2 separate regions of the Homo sapiens genome follow, and region 1 is linked to region 2. Evidence: fine-mapped expression QTL. A gene starts in region 2. The other region holds a variant in brackets. All regions are shown on one strand. Distances are from middle to middle.

Region 1 (8,308 bases), 28 kb before region 2:
GACCCCCGGCCAGGCAGCACCAGAGGCCAAGCCCAAGGGTCTGTCTTCCTTGCTGGGCAGGCGAGGGGCATTGCAGTGCTCAGCATTTCCCCAGAGGGCAGCGGCCTGGGAAGACATAGAGCTGGGCTAGGGAGGGGCGGGGCCCTGGTGAGGCCTTGCCCCCTCCTCCCCTCCCAGGGACCTGAGCTTCTGGGGTCAGTCACTCAGCAGCCACCTACAGGTGGCAGAACCTGCTATCCTTCCCAAGGGCTGGGTGTCCCCCAGTATGGCTGGAGGGGTGACCACGGGGGGCCTTTGGGCAGGCGGCTCGGCCATTGCGCCTCCCTCTCACCTCCGTAGCCATTCCCCAGCTGGCCATTGCTGCCTCTCTTCACGTCGGGGCCCCCTGTGGCACAGACAGACAGACCAGGAGCACTCGGGTCACCAGAGAGCTTCCGTCCACCCCAGCTTCAACCCAGGCTGTGGGAGACACCCCCTCCCCGGAGGGCCCAGGGCTCAGCTCTGCCTCAGTTTCTCAGAGGACCGGGGGGAGAGGGACAGAGTATGGAGAACTGAGTCCGTGATGGCCCTCGTTCCCAACTCCATCACCTCCCCTTCTTGGTCCAGTGTCTGGGCTGGCTCTCAGGGTCCCGGGCTCTTCTGGCCTCTCCTCCAGCTCCATTCCTTCCTGCTCCTTCCTGCCTATGCCCTCCTGGCCTCTTCTCACTCACTCCATCCCCTCCGCCAAGAGGGCTGTACCTTCTATCTCTGTGGGGCTGTGGGTAGACCTGGGCCCAGGGCCCAGTTCCCTGAAGCCACCTCTAATGGCCCCAACACACTCATCCAGGCATCCCGTTACCTGGCTGGCTCCTGGCCTCAGCATATTCATCTCCAGCCTGATATCCAGGCTTCAAGCCGGCCCCCCAGGCCTGGAGGGTGGGCCAGCGAGAGTTCCACAGCACCCCGGCCTGCCCTGTGGGGAGGAGAGCTGGCAGGGGTACCCTTGCCCACAGGAGCTGGGACCCCTGGCCCCTGTTGGGCTTGGCTCTGCTCCCAGAAGGCTCATTTCTTACCATTTCCTTCAGGGGCTAGAGCTGCTGCTTTGGGGTACACCAGAGCTTCCACCCCATCCCCTCCAAGAGACTCTGGTCATTCCCGCCTAGCCCCTGGGCTGTTGTCTCCCCCACTCCACTGCACTTTGTCCCCTGGGTCTGACTCACTATTCCTAAAACCATTGGCCCCATGGAACCCTGGAGGAGGAAAGAGGGTGTCAGAGGCTGGGCTGGGGCCCTGAGCCCAACTCTCCCACCCCGACCCCTGCTCCCCAGGCACCTGGCTGTGGGTGGGCCTCGGGGAAGACCCTGGCTCCCAGGACACCATTCCCATAACCTAAACCTGCAGGACAGAGATTGGAGAGGAGCTAGGGACAGGCTAGTGGAACAGGGACAGCATCAGGAGGGCCAGGTGACCAGCTCATAGACAGGGGGATGCGGACAGACAGACTGACTCAGGCATGAGGGAGATGCCAGCTTCCGCTCAACATGGGTCGGGGGCCCAGGAGGACTCACCAATTTTCTGTGGCTCGAGGCCACCATTAAAACCTGGGGGAGAGAAAACTGTGACTCAGAGATGGGGGTCAGCGAGAGCCACAGCCCTGGCCTCCCCTCTTCCTGGGATGGCAGAAGGAAGAGGAGGGAAGAGGAAGGGAAGGGAGGGGAGGAACTCCAGGAAGGGCCTCCTCACCTGGTTCTGCTCCCGGTCCATAGCCATTTGGAGGCTGGTGCCCTGTGAGGAGAAAGGAAGTCAGTGCGGGGGACCCAGGTCTCCCCTGACTCCTTGGAGGCCAAAGATCGACCTTAGGGACTCTGAAGGGGAAGCAGAGACTTTTCCTGTCCACAGGGAATGGAACCAGAAGAAATCTGGAGAGCAGCAAGAGACTGGGCGCAGTGGCTCACGCCTGTAATCCCAGCACTTTGGGAGGCTGAGGTGGGCTGATCACTTGAAGCCAGGAGTTTGAGACCAGCCTGTCCAATGTGACAAAACCCCGACTCTACAAAAATACAAAGATTAGCCAGGTATGGTGGTGCGTGCCTGTAATGCCAACTACTTGGGAGGCGTATTTTGCAGTGAGCCAAAATTGCACCACTGCATTCCAGCCTGGGCGACAGAGCGAGACTGTCTCAAAAAAAAAAAAAAAAAAAAAAAAAGAGCAAGAGGGTAGACTCGGGGAGGGACTTCCTGGCCTTCGGGTGCCTGAATAGCTTAGGCAGCCTAGGGAAAAAGGGTGATGGAGGGGTGACCCTGATCTGGGGTGGAGACAGAGGATAGACCTAGCTGAGAGTTTGTCCCTCTGGGATGTGGGGCCTGGGGGCAGACAGACTCACACCTGCTTTCTGAGGTTTCAGTCCCCACTGGATGGCTGGCATTGGTGCTAGGAGGAAGGTTAGGGGCAGGAGTGAGCCCAGCCGAGGGCTTGAGAGACTGCAGATGCCATGGGGCAGGGATGGAAAGGACTCCCATACTGGGGACCACATGGGGTCCCAGGGCCAGAGTTCAGGCTTCTCCTCAGCAGATCACTGTGTGACAAGTCACTGCCCTCTCTGAGCCTTGGCATCCGAGGACAGAGTGGGATATGGCAGCCAGGCCCTGACCCTCATAGGGCCAGGTGCTTCCCAGTGCCCCCTAGGCACCCCCACTCCACACTGACCTGGTAACTTGCCATTCTGCACTGCGGAAGGGGGCTGGGATTTCAGGCCCCAGCCACCCTCTTTGTCCGAAGGGACCCCTGGAGTGGGAAGCCTGGGGAGGAGCATCGGAGCGACCCTCGCATTGCAGGGACCTACGATGGGAAGGAAGGGAGGGGTGGGGCTATGCTCCAGGCCAGTCCTCACCGACGCCACCCAGGAGGCCTTGGCCTGGCCAAGCCACCGGCCTGTAGTGGCTTCTAGGGCAGACCCAGCACCTTAGGGGGACATTAGCCAGGCTGGAAAAAGCCCAGCTCCCTTGGTCCACACTCTCCTGGGGGGACCTGGGGATCCAGGCAGGGGATAGAGGGATGTAGGGATCTGGCAGGGATGGGGCTCCTGATGGAGGCCCCTCCGTCTTCCAGCAGCCTCCCTCTCCCTTCCTCCTGGGCCCCCACCCCTGGTCCCAGTGGCCTCACCTGGCCAGGGCCCATTTTCATGGCCGTGTCCTGGAGAGGGAAAGCAGAGATGAGTGTGGCAACACTGGGGGCAGAGGCTAGAAGGGCTGAGAGGCAGAAGGAGGTGTGGGGCAGAGCCAGGGGTCCCCCACTCACCTGACTTCTGAGGCTTCAAGGTCCCTCGCAGGCCTGGGGAGAGACAGAAAGAGGCCAGTTCAGACATCAGCCCACCCGAGGAGTGTAGTGAACCCCTCTCTCCCCTGCTGATCCCCCTAGCCCCGTCTTTTCACCTGGCAGGAGCCCCAGCCAGGTCCCTGGTGTGTATCCTGGGAGGGAGAGCAGGGCATGAGGGC[G/A]GGGTTGGAGTGGGGGACCTTGGAGAAGGCAGGAAGAGGGGCAGAGAGCAACTCGGCTTTGGAGGTTTCTGGCTCTCTCCCAGGCCAGAGACCCATGGAGAATAATGGACAGGCCCACCCCACCCCACCCCTTCCCCCACTGAGACCCAACTCTGTCCGTTGGAGCCTGTCCTCCTTCCCCTCTGCTCCAGGTCCCACCCACCTCCCTCACCTGGCTGGGCTCCTTCCCACAGGAAGGCTCCAGCTCCAGCCCGTTCTTGCACCATGGGGAGACAGGGTACAGCTTGGGAGGGGAAAAGGGTGGAGGGGTAGGCAGTTTCTGCAGGTAGGGAGAGTGAGGAGTGGGAAGGGCTTACCTGGCTTCTGAGGTTTCATGCCCTCTCCAGCACCTGGAGAGATGCGAGTAGGTGAGGGACCCATGCCCACTCCTCACTGAGGGGTCTCTTCCAGACCTGGCATCTGTCCCCCACCTGGTGCCCATGCCAACCTCCCCTTCCTGGTCCATGACCAGTGGGAACTGCAGGGTCTGTGGGGGCGGCATGGGGAGAGGTTGGGGTACAGAAGGGGGCTGGAGCCTGGCCCCCCTTTCCTCCCAATTTAGGAACTGGAGCTCCCAGCACCTCCCTCCCCCTTGTGCCGCCTCCTCTCCAGACTCTACCCCGTCTAAGGCTGCAGGAGCCCCCAAGAAAACCCTCAGTACAGGGTCAGGGGAGAGCCAGGCCCCCACCTCTTTCCTCCTTTCTGCACTCCCAGCAACTCCAGCCCCCCAGTACCTGCTCTGTAGCCATTCTGGGCTAAGGGGCCTGTGGGGAGGGAGGGGTGAGCAGGGGGTTTGGGATTCTAGCTAAGGAGAGGGCGAAGGGCCTTTGGATCCCCTTTCAGAGCCAAGTCAGAAACCAGGGATCCTGGCGCCACCTCTCCTCCCTCATTTTGGTGTCCACCTGCTCTGGAGGCCTGGGAGGGAGACAGGGACATCAGCCCGACACCCCCTCACTGGCTCGGCTCCCAGCCCCCTCCTGAATGCCGATGGAGCTGAGGTGGGGTATGAATGAGGGAGGGAGCTCAGGGTTTGGGGGAGGCAGAGGGACAGGCGGGGCAGGGCTCACCTGGCTTCTGGGCCTTCATAACCCCCAAATAGCCTGGTGAAGAGAAAGGGAGCAAGTGAGGGACCCAAGGCCTCCGCTCTGGACCTCCTGGAACCCCAGCCCTGCCCCTTCCTGGTCCATAGCCGTTTGGAGCTCCCAGGCCTGTGGGGCAAAAAAGGGAACGTGGTAAGGCTGAGCCACTGGGGGACAGGGAGGCAGGGGCCAGGAAGGGGGCTCTCAGTCTCTCCCCAACCTCCTCTCCCCTCGGTCCTCGGTGCTCCTACAGACCTCCCCTCACTCATGAGGCAGGGGTCACCCCTCCCCTGGGAGTCCCACGCAGACCCAGCTAGAACACCAGGATCTAGGGGAGGTGGGGCCACAGACACAGGCAGTCCCCTCACCTGGCATCTGAGGCTTCATCCCCGCTCCTAGGCCTGGGAGAGACAGAGAGGCTGACATCAACTCCAGCCAGTGCTGCTGATCCCCAGACCCCAGCTCTCTGTCCCTGTGGCCTCAGCTTCTCTCTTCCCGTCCCACCTCCCGACCCCTCGCGAGCCAGGCCCAGCTGCCCTCACCTGGCTGGACTCCCGGTCCATTTCCATGGCCATATTCTAGGGGGAGGGACGGGGAGGGTGTGAGACGGCGGCATTCGGAGGGGGTGTCAGGAGGACGCAGCCCTAGAGACAGGGCGGGGGCCCAGGGCCCTGGGAGGGGGCCTGGCTCCCCCTCCCAGGCCTACAGAGAGACACAGAGGCAGAGCCACATCCGGCCAGCCAGTGGCACTTAATTCCCCAGGATTCAGACCCACACTCTGCCCTCCCGGCCCCCTGGCCCGATCTTTGTCTTCCCCCTTCCCTCTAAGAAGCCTGGGCTCAGCCCGGTGCGGTGGCTCACGCCTGTCATCCCAGCACTTTGGGAAGCCAAGGCAGGTGGATCATCTGAGGTCAGGAGTTCGAGACCAGCCTGAGCAACATGGTGAAATCCTGTCTCTACCAAAAATACAAAAATTAGCCAGGTGCGGTGGTGGGTGTCTGTAATCCCAGCTACTTGGGAGGCAGAGGTAGGAGAATTGTTTGAACCCAGGAGGTGGAGGTTGCAGTGAACCGAGATTGCGCCACTGCACTCCAGCCTGGGCGACAGAGCAAGACTCCATCTCAAAAAAAAAAAGCCTGGGCTCCTACCCCAGGTGTCCTCACCTGGCTGGGTTCCAGCCCCAGGGAAGGCCCCTGCTCTCAGCCTTTTCCCATATCCTGGAGAGGGAGGGAGCATGAGTAGAGTGCTTATGGCTTCAGGGGTTCGTGCATAGAGAGGCAGACCAGGGCGGGCGGGGCTCACCTGGCTTCAGAGGCTTCACATTCCCTCCAAGGCCTGGAGGAGATATAGGGGGGCTGGTGAGTGACTCAGGGGCCCCACCCACATTCTCCCCCAGCCCCTCCCCACCCCTGCTCCTACCTGCTCCAAATCCAAATCGGTTCTGGGCTGTCAAGACTATGGGGAGAGGAGGGTGGGGTGGGGATTTGGGGTTTGGTTGAGGTGGAGGTAAGGGAATCCTGGAGGCTTCCTCCCAGCAGCCCTTCAGTTATTCACCAGCTCAGCCCCCCATGAGACTGGGAAGGGAGGCAGGGAGAGGACGCCCCAGGGGTAGAACCCCAGACCCCATCTGTCTCACCTGGCTGAGCACTCAGCCCATTCCCATTCCCTAATCCTGGGGGACAGATGGAGGTGGGGGTGAGAGGGGGAAGGGGGCTCTGAACACTGGGGAGACAGAAGCCCGGGAGAGCCAGGCTTACCTGGCTCCTGTGCCTTCATGTCCCCTCTAAAGCCTTTGGGAAAATGGGGAGCAGATGAGGTACCTAGGAGCCCCCAACTCAGATCCACCCCAGAACCCCAGCATCTGGACCCCAGCTCCTCCCATCCCCCTCAGGACCTGCTCCAGGGCCATTCTGAGGTGGGGGGCTTGTCGGGGTGGGAGGGCTGAGCTAAGCTGGGGACACAGCGCCTATGGTTCCCCTTCAGGGCCAAGCCAGAAGCCAAGGATCTTGGAGACGCCCCGTCACCCCTCTCCATCATTCACCAATCCCGCCCCTGGGAGGAAGAGGCCGCCCAGATGCAGACCCTGGAACCCCAGACTGTACCCCCTTCACCTGGCTGGGCTCCCAGCCCAATTCTGTACTGGAATCCTGGGGGAATAGATCAAGGCGGGGTATGAATGAGGGGAGGGAGCTCAGGTTTTGGGGAGGCAGAGGGACAGGCCGGGGCAGGGCTCACCTGGCTTCTGGGGTTTGACGGCCCCCACATAGCCTGGTGGAGAGACAGGGAGCAGGTGAGGAACCTGGGGCCCCAGCTCTGGGCCTCCCCAAACCCCAGCCCCGCCCCTACCTGGTCTATAGCCATTTTGAGTGGTGGGGCCTGTGGAGGAGAGAAAGGGTTAAGGCCCTCCGGAGCCCTGGATGCCATCTCCAGCCACCTCGGGCAGGGGTGTCCCCACCCCCAACTTCAACGAGCCAGAAAGGCAGGTTCCTTTCCTCAGCAGCCTCCAACTGTCAAGCTCCAGCTCCTGCCACATCTTGGGTCTGAGCTCTTTTTTTTATTTTCTTGAGATGGAGTCTCGCTCTTGTTGCCCAGGCTGGAGAGCAATGGCGTGATCTTGGTTCACTGCAACCTCCGCCTCCCGGGTTCAAGCAATTCTCCTGCCTCAGTCTCCTGAGGAGCTGGGATTACAGGTGCCCGCCACCACGCCTGGCTAATTTTTAGCATTTTTAGTAGAGACGGAGTTTCACCATGTTGGCCAGGCTGGTTTTGAACTCCTGACCTCAAGTGATCCGCCCGCCTAGGCCTCCCAAAGTGCTGGGATTACAGGCGTGAGCCACTGCGCCTGGCCAGGTCTGAGATCTTGCTGGAGCCTGTACCTTCTTTGTTCAAAACTCTCCTTTTGGTTCAGTTTCTCAGAGGGTTGGGCCACTCTCTCCTCCCTGGCCTCCACTGCCTCCTAAGAACTCCCAGAGCCCAGCTCTGGGGCAGCCTCAGCCCATACTGTATGCCCCAGCGTGGCCCTGGTTGGGGAGGGCCTGTCCCCAGCACCTGGTTGGCTCAGAACAGGCATGGTCCACGGATTACTTTGGTTGTTGTTTGTTTGTTTGTTTGTTTTTGAGACGGAGTCTTGCTTTGTCACCCAGGCTGGAGTGCAGTGGCACGATCGGCTCACTGCAAGCTCCGCCTCCTGGGTTCACGCCAGTCTCCTGCCTCAGCCTCCCGAGTAGCTGGGATTACAGGTGCCCACTACCACGCCCGACTGATTTTTTTGTATTTTCAGTAGAGACGGCGTTTCACTGTGTTAGCCGGGATGGTCTTGATCTCCTGACCTTGTGATCCACCCGCCTCAGCCTCCCAAAGTGCTGGGATTACAGGCGTGAGCCACTGAGCCCGGCCTGTCTGTTTTTTAAACAGGATCTCTCTCTGTCACCCAGGCTGGAGTACAGTGGCAAGATCTCCACTCACTACTACCTCGACTTCCTGGGCTCAAGTGATCCTCACCTCTCAGCCTCCAGAGTAGCTGGGACTACAGGCACGTGCCACCACAACTGGCTAGGTTTTTTTTTTTTGTAGATGGATTGCTTGAGCCCAAGATTTCAAGACCAGCTTGGGAATGTTGCCCAGGCTGGTCTTGAACTCCTGGGCTCAATTGATCCACCTAACTCTGCCTCCCGAACTGTTGGGATTACAGGTGTTAGCCACTGCTCCAGGCCTGG
Region 2 (8,308 bases):
TCACCACCCTGCAGTTTGCTCCTGGACAGCAGCCTCTCCAGCAACTGGGATGACGACAGCCTAGGGTGGGTTCAAGTGCAGGGTATGGGGGGCTAGGGGGAAGGTGGGGGATATCACCGGGGCTCCATGGAGATTCGTGGTGAATGGGGACCACTCCCACAAACCTGGCCCCCATCACATCCTGGGGAAGGGGACCAAGACTGGGGGTGTGTGGCCTGGCCAGGCTTAATGCAGCTGGGCATGTGGACTGGCCGTTCAGGGCATGGCTTCACACTTAGGGCACCAGCACCCCAGGGAGTGGCTGGCCGCGCAGCCCCGACCCCAGTGGAGGCTGCCAGTGCCCAGGGATAAAACATTGTCCCTTCTCTGGGAAGAGAAAGCCTCTGGAGTCTGGGGAGCCCTGCCCTGGGAACAAGTCCTTGGTCCCTGGGGCCTGGTGTCTTGAGTGAGAGGCTGTAATTAGGAAACCACACGCTCAGGGCAGACAGCTCTTGGGGACTCTGCCGTTAGCCCCTTCCTTACAAACACATCACCTCATCCCTCGGGGCACTTGATAGCAGACAAGAAGTTCCAGAAAGGCTTACATTTACTAAAAGTTTATTTCAAATCTGCCTCCAAGTCCATGTGTTCTGAAAAGGACAGAGGGGGCCTTGGAGTGCAGCCAGATGGAAGGACTTTGAAGGCTGTCCAAGTGCTGCTTTCAGAGTGCACCAAGTTTTTATTGTCCCTGACTGTGGCTCCCTGCCTGTTTGTCAGGCGGGAGCCTGGAGCCTGCACAGGGACAGAGCTGGTTTCATCCGGCACTCCCTAGCCCTGGACACCCTCCTTGTCTCGCCTGCCCTCCTGCAGGCCTTCACTCTCCCCTGAGGCTGTCCTGGCCCGGACTGTGGGGAGCACCTCCACCCCCCGGAGCAGGTGCACACCCAGGTAAGCAGGTCCAGGGGCTGGGGTGGGCAGGGCTAGCTTTTGGATCCTGAGTGTCACTACTCTCTCCTCCCAGGGATGCCCTGGACCTAAGTGACATCAACTCAGAGCCTCCTCGGGGCTCCTTCCCCTCCTTTGAGCCTCGGAACCTCCTCAGCCTGTTTGAGGACACCCTAGACCCAACCTGAGCCCCAGACTCTGCCTCTGCACTTTTAACCTTTTATCCTGTGTCTCTCCCGTCGCCCTTGAAAGCTGGGGCCCCTCGGGAACTCCCATGGTCTTCTCTGCCTGGCCGTGTCTAATAAAAAGTATTTGAACCTTGGGAGCACCCAAGCTTGCTCATGTGGCAACATGGCCCTTCCTGTCCCTTTATTGATGTCATCCAGGGTCTTAACGCCCCTGAGGCTGAGCCCTGCTGCAGAACCCAGCGCTCCTGGCCTTGGGCCAGCAGCTGAAGCCCCATGCTGTGTGGAGCAAAGAGGTTTCCTGAGCAGGCACATCCCCCGGTGGGTACCTGGAGCTGTTGGGAGTATGGCACTCAAGGTGGAGGGCAGGCACGGCCCAGGGGTCCCAGGATCTGAGGCCGCTGAGCTCCCTGTGTCAGTTTCCTGGAAGAAGCAGCTGCAGCCCTTGTGCCTGTGGCCAGCTGGTACAAGACGGGTCCACGCCCCCTTGGTCCTTTTGTCCTGAATGCCTTACTCCATAGTCTCTGGGCAGAGGGAGCCAGGGCGGGCAAGCTTGTGGCTGCTGGGAGGGCTGGTATGCAGGGCAGAAAGATGGAGATCAGGAAGACTGGCCACAGGCCTGGTGGGAGGAACAGGATAGGGTGAGGAGGCTCTGGGCTGGCGGCCTGGCAGGACTTGAACTCTCAGAGCAAGACGTGACCCCAGAGTCCCTCTCTGGTCTAACCCCACAGGTCACAGAGGGTAAAGAGGTCCCAAGAGGGAAAGGTTTCCTTCCAGCTGACACAGTAAAATAGGAGCTTGGAGGGAAAAGGCAGGGAAGGAAGTTGGAGCGCCACGGCGTGGGTGGAAGAGGTCAGTCCACAGGGAAGAACGGGTGAACAGGGCTCCTGCTGAGACATCTCATGAGCTGGAAGCATCCAAGGAGCCAGCCCCTTGCAGACGAGTTGGGAGGAACACCTGGTGTTGCTAACTCTAGGAGGCTGCTGTGGGCAGGCTGGCATGGCAGCTCAGTCCCGGGGACAGGCGTGGTGGGCAGCCCAGAGCAGGTCGGGCACGACGCCGGCGTGCAGCTGCAGGATGGAGCCCACGCTCAGCAGGTGCATGATCTGGTGGGAGTTGCCCCAGTAGTCAAAGCGGCCAGGTCCCCAGCGCTCGGGCAGACGGGCTACATTTACCAGTCCCCCAAGCAGCGCCAGTGCGTCCATGCGCAGGTAGCAGGGCAGGGAGCCTGGAGCCCCTGAACCCAGACCCACTCCCCGGGCCCCAAATACCAGTAGGCGGGCAGCAGCCTGCCATCCAAATGCCCGGAGCCGAGCACTGGTGGAGGGGGCGGTGAGAGCACGCCAGCCGGCCACACCCGACAACACAGTGTAGCCCACCAGGGCAGCCGGGCGCAGCCAGGGCCTGCAGGCCAGGGTGCAGTGGATGATGGGCAGGGCCCCTGCACAAGAGGAGAGAACAGGAGAGGGCATGTCATTGTGAGGGTCCACCCGCCCTTCCCTACCCATGGCTTGTATGCGTGCCCCATGCCTCTCCCGCCGGTGGCTCCAGCTCCCATCCCTTGGGCCCTGACTCACCAAGGGTGTTGACAAGGCAGACCCCACACATGTCCAGGGCGAGGAGCCGGGCGTACACAGCGCTGCCCCCTTGGTGGCACATAAAGAGGTGATAGAGCACGGAGCCTGCAGGGGGTGCAAGGCAGGCCACGCAATGTGTGCCTCCCAGCCAGCCATCCTTGCCCAGCTGACCCCAGGGCATGGTCATTGGCACCAGCACCAGGAAGCCCAGCAGGGCCAGCCCTAGGGAGGGAGACAGTCATCTACCAGATAGTTTCAGTCACATCCTCAAGGGGACCACGGTTCAGACACAACACAGGACAGGGCAAGACAGGTCCAGGTAATGCTGTCATCCAGTTGGCGGCCTGGCCTTGGCCAGAGACAGGCCCTGGGCAAAAGGCTTTTGGCACTGGTTACTTATCATGGCTCAGGATGGTCTGGGAAGTAGAGACCATGATCCCCACTTTGCAGGTGAGGAAACAGACTTGGAGGGGCTGAGTGACCGGCCCCGGGTGAGCCCAGCAGGTAAGCAATGGCAGAGGACAGGCCTAGGCCGTCCCACTCCCACACTGCTCTCCCCATACAAGCAGGTCACAGGAGAAGGCTAAGGCAGCGAAACCTCAAGTTGAGTTGTGAAGAGGACACATGAGCAGTGATGCCAGCCCGGGGCCACTTGGCTTGCTCTTCCCAACCCAAGTCCTCCCCTCTCCATAAGTGTCCAGACAAATGGAGGCACTGGGCCTTTTTATCTTCTATAAAGGGGTGAGGCCAGGTGGGGGAAGACAAGTCCAGAATGAAGGGAAGGGGGCTTCGAGGGGCTTGTCCCATCTCCCCAGACCTCTCCCTGGGGAGTTTGATTCCAGCCTAGCCCTTTCTGGGAGGTCTCCACCCCTCCCTGCCGGCCTCTAGTACTGGCCTCCCAGGGGCCAAACGGGGCTCCGAAGGCTGCCCACCCTTGTGAGAATGTGGCCTGGCAAAAGCTCGGGAAAGGCACCCAGGCTGGGCCAGGCCGCTCAGGGCCCCTTGCCCGCCTGGGGCAGCTCAAGGACGGGCAGGGCTGTGTCAGCAGAGCTCCGCGGGGCGCGGAGGAGGGGCCGGACGCCTGTTGGGGGAAGAAGGAGCCGCCACCAGGCGGAGCCCCAAGACAGAGCGGCTTGGGGCGGGGGCGTCAGGACGGCGGCGCTGGGAGGCTCCTCCCGGGCCCTCCTCATCGCAGTCAACACCATCTCCCGGCTGGGTGCTGGCGGGAGGGGGTTCCCAGGGCGCTGGGATTACAGAGGCCGGACACCATGCTCCCTACCCCTGGGGCTCAGAGGGATTAAGCAGGCTCAGACCCTACTCTGCTCCCCTCTCCTGACCCGGCCCCCACCCGCCGGGAAAACGGAAGCTGGCAGCGCGGCCCGGGACAATGGCAGCTTTGTCACCGCGGCTACTGGCGGTGCCAGGGCCGGGGCAGCCCTGGACTTGGGCGCTGGGGCCCTCCTCGGCCTCAGTGCCCCCGGCCCAACGCAGGTAGGGCGGCCGGGGGTGTGGGAAGCGCGTTGCGGGACGCGGCTCACCGTGCGTGTAGATGTTGCCCAGTTCGTTGTGCAGGTAGAAGAGGCTGCGCAGGCAGCCCGAGCCGCTGCTGGCGGGCCGGTACCCGGTCAGCACGAACTTATTGAACTGCAGGTGCGGCGGCGAGCTGGCCCAGTCCAGCAGGCGCGGCCCGGCCAGGAACGCCATGGTCCGCACCGCGCGGGCAGCCCGTGCTCCTGCTGTCCCCGAGCCTCCTCCTCAGTGGGGCCGCAGCGCGGGAAGGCCCATCACTGCCTGGCGCCCGGCGCCCGGCGCCCACCCATCGCCCTGCGCTCGATCGGCGCACGCGCTGGCTAGGGGGTCCCAGCCCGCGCCCCTCCGGCGCTGCGCACGCGCGAGTCCGTCGCCCCCGCGCCGGGGCGGAGGCTGGGGACGCACCGGACGCCTGAGCGCACTGCGGTCGGCTCCGCCAAGGCAGACGCGCCGCAGGGACAGCTCGCGGCGGCGGCGGCGGCGGTGGCCGGTAGTCTCTCTGCAGCCAGGAGGACGGGCGCGGCCGGACGCGGGAGGGGACGCCAGGCTCCGCCCAGGCTCCTAGTTCCCGCCGGCCGGCCAGCGTTTCGCGCGCCGGGCTCCTGACGTCGGCGCAGCGAGAGCCAATGGGCGTGGCCGGCGGGGAGGCTCCGCCCCGAGGCCGCCCAGGCCTCGCCTCCTAGCATAGTGTGCGCGCTCCCAGCCTCATTTGCATGGGGTGGCTGTGGGCTTGCGACCCAACGTTCTGGGTCCTGCGGGCTGCGCTAGAGTGACCCTGGCACCTCGCGTCCCTCAGAACTGTGCATCCGGGCTTTCCGCGTGACACCCAGGTCTCCGTACCTTTGGGCACCCACCCTCGGGGGCATAGTCCTGCCACCTAGCCCTACCCTGCAGACGGGGCTCTGTCCAAGGTGCTGCCGGACGGGTCCGGCCTACATCCGGTACGCCCCCGCTCCAAAGTGATCTTTCCGCAGGCTGGACTCCCGAGTGCAGCAAGGCGCTCCACGGTACCCAGGCCTCTGAAGGCGTGCCTCACGCGCCCGCAGCCGTCGGGAGAGGCCCTATCCTTCGCGCTAGGCTTCTCGGAGCGTGGGCCCGGCCCAACTTGCTCCCAGTTATCGCCCACAAGGAGCACCCTTGCGGGGCCCTACCGAGGATAGACAGGAAACAGATTGGAGGCCAGGGGAGCAAAGTCGACCTCCGCCCCGTCCACCCTGAGCAGGGACCGGGAAGGCACCCCTTATTCAGCATAACGCTGCCCACGATCCTCCTCCCCTTCCACCCCCCGCCTTCTACAGGACTCCACCCACCCACCCATCTGTCTGTGTTCTAGGTCCTTCTCTGCATTCCAGGCAGCTCCACCAAAGTCTGCGTGCAACGCCCTTCATTTGCATGGACACACGCAACCCTCGGCGTTTGTATGGTCATTAACATGCTCCTCCCACCACGGAAGAACTTTCGAGGCCCGTACCAAAGTAGATCCTTTATTCAAAATCTGTGGGGGTTTTTTGACTGTTTTTGCTGACCTGTGACCTCTCACTGAGGACGGCAGTCCAGGACCACCCCCAGAGGGGTTCAAAGACCTCCGAAACCAGAGACCACCCCCACATACAGGTCCATGGAGAGGGCCTGGACCATCTGGACCCCCACGGTCAGGCCAAGTCCCAGATAATAGCACCAGATGTTTCCTGTCCGACTTTTGGTCTCCCCAAGGCGACCAGAGGCCGAGCTGCCCCTACACAGGCGCAAGGCCGAGGCAGGGCGCAGCACAGCATCTCAGGTGTCCATCTCGCCGGCGGCGGGCCCAGCGGACCCTCGGGGCCCAGAGTCAGAGAGCGGAGATGAGCGAGCGCAGGGAGCTCTGGCTGGAGGCACTCAGAGGCCGGTAGCCCGCGGCAGAACCCTCAGCCTGGGGGTCCCCGGGGGAGCAGGGCAAGGCCACCCCTCGGGGCTGTTGGTACCACACAGCCCAGCTTCTCCTGGGGCCCCTGGAAGCCCCCAGCGCCGGGGGCCCTTTTCCCGGAGCCAGCAGACAGCTCCTAGAGAGGGAGCAGACATCAGCCGAGCCGGTCCAATCCCGCTGCAGCGTCCTGCTCTACCTGCGATCCCGCGCGCGATCCTGTGCGTGGACCCAAAGCCTCGCTCCCTTAAGAACCCAGGAGTTCCTTCCTAGCTCTGTTCCCTTCTGGGGCTCCAGCTCCCCACCACCGGTCCGCCCTCAGGCCCTGCCCCAGCGCCCCGCACCGTCGGCGCAGCGGACGCAGCAGCCCCAGGAGCAGCAGCAGCAGCACCGAGACAGCCGTCACCGTCGAGAAGACCCGGGCTGCGGGCACACGGCTGCGGTGAGGATGGGCGCGAGGGGGCGGCTCCCTGACTCACTCCCGTCCCGCGCGCCCGCCTCACCCCCAATCGCGGCCGGCGGAGCCCCAGGCCTGGGGCTGCAGCTCACGTTGGCCCCGTCGAGGGGCGCCGCGGGGGTCTGGGCCGAGCCCTCGGGGGCCTCTGGGTCCTCAGCGGCGTCCTGCAGCCCTGCGGAGAGGGGCGTGAGGCGGGGTGGGGAGAGCGGGGTGGGAACAGCGGGCAGGGCGCGCCGAGCTGAGGCTCACCGCGGTAGGTGAGCGCGAAGCCTTGCGCGTGGCCGCGCGCGTCGCTTCGGAAGGTGAGCAGCAGCGCGGCAGTGCCCAGGCGCAGCGGCCCGGACGGCGGTGGGCGGGCGCCATCGAAGGCGCGGAGCAGGCTGCCCGAAGCCGCGTCGCGCAGCTCCAGCCGGTCGCGCGGGTCGGCCAGCTCGAAGAGGCGGAAGGTGAGCTCCAGCGCGGCGCCTGGCGGGCCCAGGGCCCAGCTGCAGTTCCGGTCCGGCCCGTACTCGTCCGGGAAGTCCGGGGAGTAGATGACGCCCTGAGGCGCTGTCCAGTTCCCCTGGCAGGAGCCCACCGACACTGCGGGCGGGGCCGGCAGTCAGCATCCTGAGGACCAGGACACGGCGGCTCCCCTGCCCGGCCAGGCCCCACCTCGAGGCCCGCCCAGGCCCCTGGTCCCCGCCCACTCCTCACCTTCATAGACGCCCAGCCGCCCATCGCCGCCACACAGCTGTCCAGGGTGGCCGAAACAGATCTGGTCACAGTCGGTGGCGGGGGCCAGGCGTCCCCGGGCCAGGTCGCTTTCAGAGCCACAGAAGCAGGCGTAACCGGCCTCCACGCCCGCCAGCTGGGAGCACAGACTGGGTGACCCCAGGGCAGGGGCTGGGGTAGGGGTGAAGTGGTGGGGGCCTGGGGTCGGGGTGGGAATCGGGCTGGAGGTTCAGAAACCGGTGTCTGGGTTTGGCAACCGAGTGTTGGGAGTTGAGTGTGGTCTTTAGGTCCAGGTCAGGGGTCACTGGTCTGGGCCCGTGAGCAGTACCTGGTACCCCTTCATGCGGCAGAAGCGTAGGCACACCTGGACCGTGAGCTTCGTGGAGGTGCCGCTGGGGCCGCTGAGGGCTGGGGGTGCCCCTGAGTCCACAAAGCATCCCAGGTAGCCTGGCACTGAGGGGGCAGAGTCAGACTTCCGTGACTCCGAAAACAACCCTCCTCCCAGATGCAGCAGCGTTCCCACCTCTGTCCAGCCGCGCTACTCACTGTGACAGGAGGGGATGTCGCAGTAGCGCCAGTAGATGCCCTCCTCTGTCTCAGCCACGTAGCACCACGGCTGCACGTCACCGTCTGGGTTACTGCGGGTGGGAGGGAGGTGGTGGGGCTCCCACCACCCCAAGAATAGCAAACCCAGGCCCGGCCCCGCAGCCTATGCTCAAAGTGGCCTTCAAGGCTCTGTGCCTGTGAGCGGCTGTGCTGCCTGCTGTACACCCACAAATTCCAGTTTTGTCTACGCAGAACTCTGCCTGATGAAGGAACTGGACGTCGACTTCCGAGTGGACAGCGGGAAGTCATTAAAGGGGACTTGAGAGCTGTTTTTAGGCTTCAGCTGTTGCTAGACTTGACTCCATATATGAGGACTTTGAGGCCATCTGTATTCTTCACCCCCACCCGGCATGGGCCTCAGCCACTTCCGTCCCTCAAACCCCACTTTTTTTTTTTTTTTTTGAGACGAGTCTCG

What was found. PIP is the estimated chance that this variant, and not a neighbour inherited with it, causes the effect.
Region 1: its variant is the best candidate, but not a certain one, in a credible set for the expression of PAQR4 in cerebral cortex (GTEx, PIP 0.67).

What each region holds. Positions count from the first base shown.
Region 1 is chr16:2,993,358-3,001,665 of GRCh38, reverse strand. It overlaps GREP1 (glycine rich extracellular protein 1), which reads right to left. Exons shown (of 29, transcript NM_001396456.1): 12 at 6,939-6,968; 13 at 6,828-6,860; 14 at 6,704-6,739; 15 at 6,350-6,382; 16 at 6,012-6,047; 17 at 5,895-5,927; 18 at 5,135-5,170; 19 at 4,961-4,993; 20 at 4,581-4,613; 21 at 3,831-3,863; 22 at 3,278-3,310; 23 at 3,143-3,172; 24 at 2,687-2,818; 25 at 1,723-1,764; 4 more. The coding sequence ends at 80. Among named protein-coding and RNA genes, the nearest start is that of GREP1, 9.2 kb to the right of the region's middle. RefSeq lists enhancers at 1-186, 2,484-2,984, 2,985-3,485, 5,153-6,125, 7,445-7,946. The variant G/A (reference allele first, on the strand shown) is at 3,475.
Region 2 is chr16:2,965,757-2,974,064 of GRCh38, reverse strand. PAQR4 (progestin and adipoQ receptor family member 4) reads right to left here and starts at 4,717. Exons shown (of 3, transcript NM_152341.5): 1 at 4,225-4,717; 2 at 2,687-2,908; 3 at 581-2,550. The coding sequence starts at 4,390. The coding sequence ends at 2,117. It overlaps KREMEN2 (kringle containing transmembrane protein 2), which reads right to left. Exons shown (of 9, transcript NM_172229.3): 3 at 7,834-7,925; 4 at 7,616-7,740; 5 at 7,270-7,423; 6 at 6,823-7,155; 7 at 6,620-6,745; 8 at 6,461-6,539; 9 at 5,685-6,255. The coding sequence ends at 6,045. PKMYT1 (protein kinase, membrane associated tyrosine/threonine 1) reads left to right here. Exons shown (of 9, transcript NM_004203.5): 7 at 1-65; 8 at 850-927; 9 at 1,001-1,257. The coding sequence ends at 1,112. RefSeq lists enhancers at 1,647-2,463, 5,213-5,292, 4,746-5,735, 8,292-8,308, 8,014-8,308 and silencers at 3,713-3,852, 4,123-4,242, 4,273-4,322, 4,333-4,502, 4,533-4,952.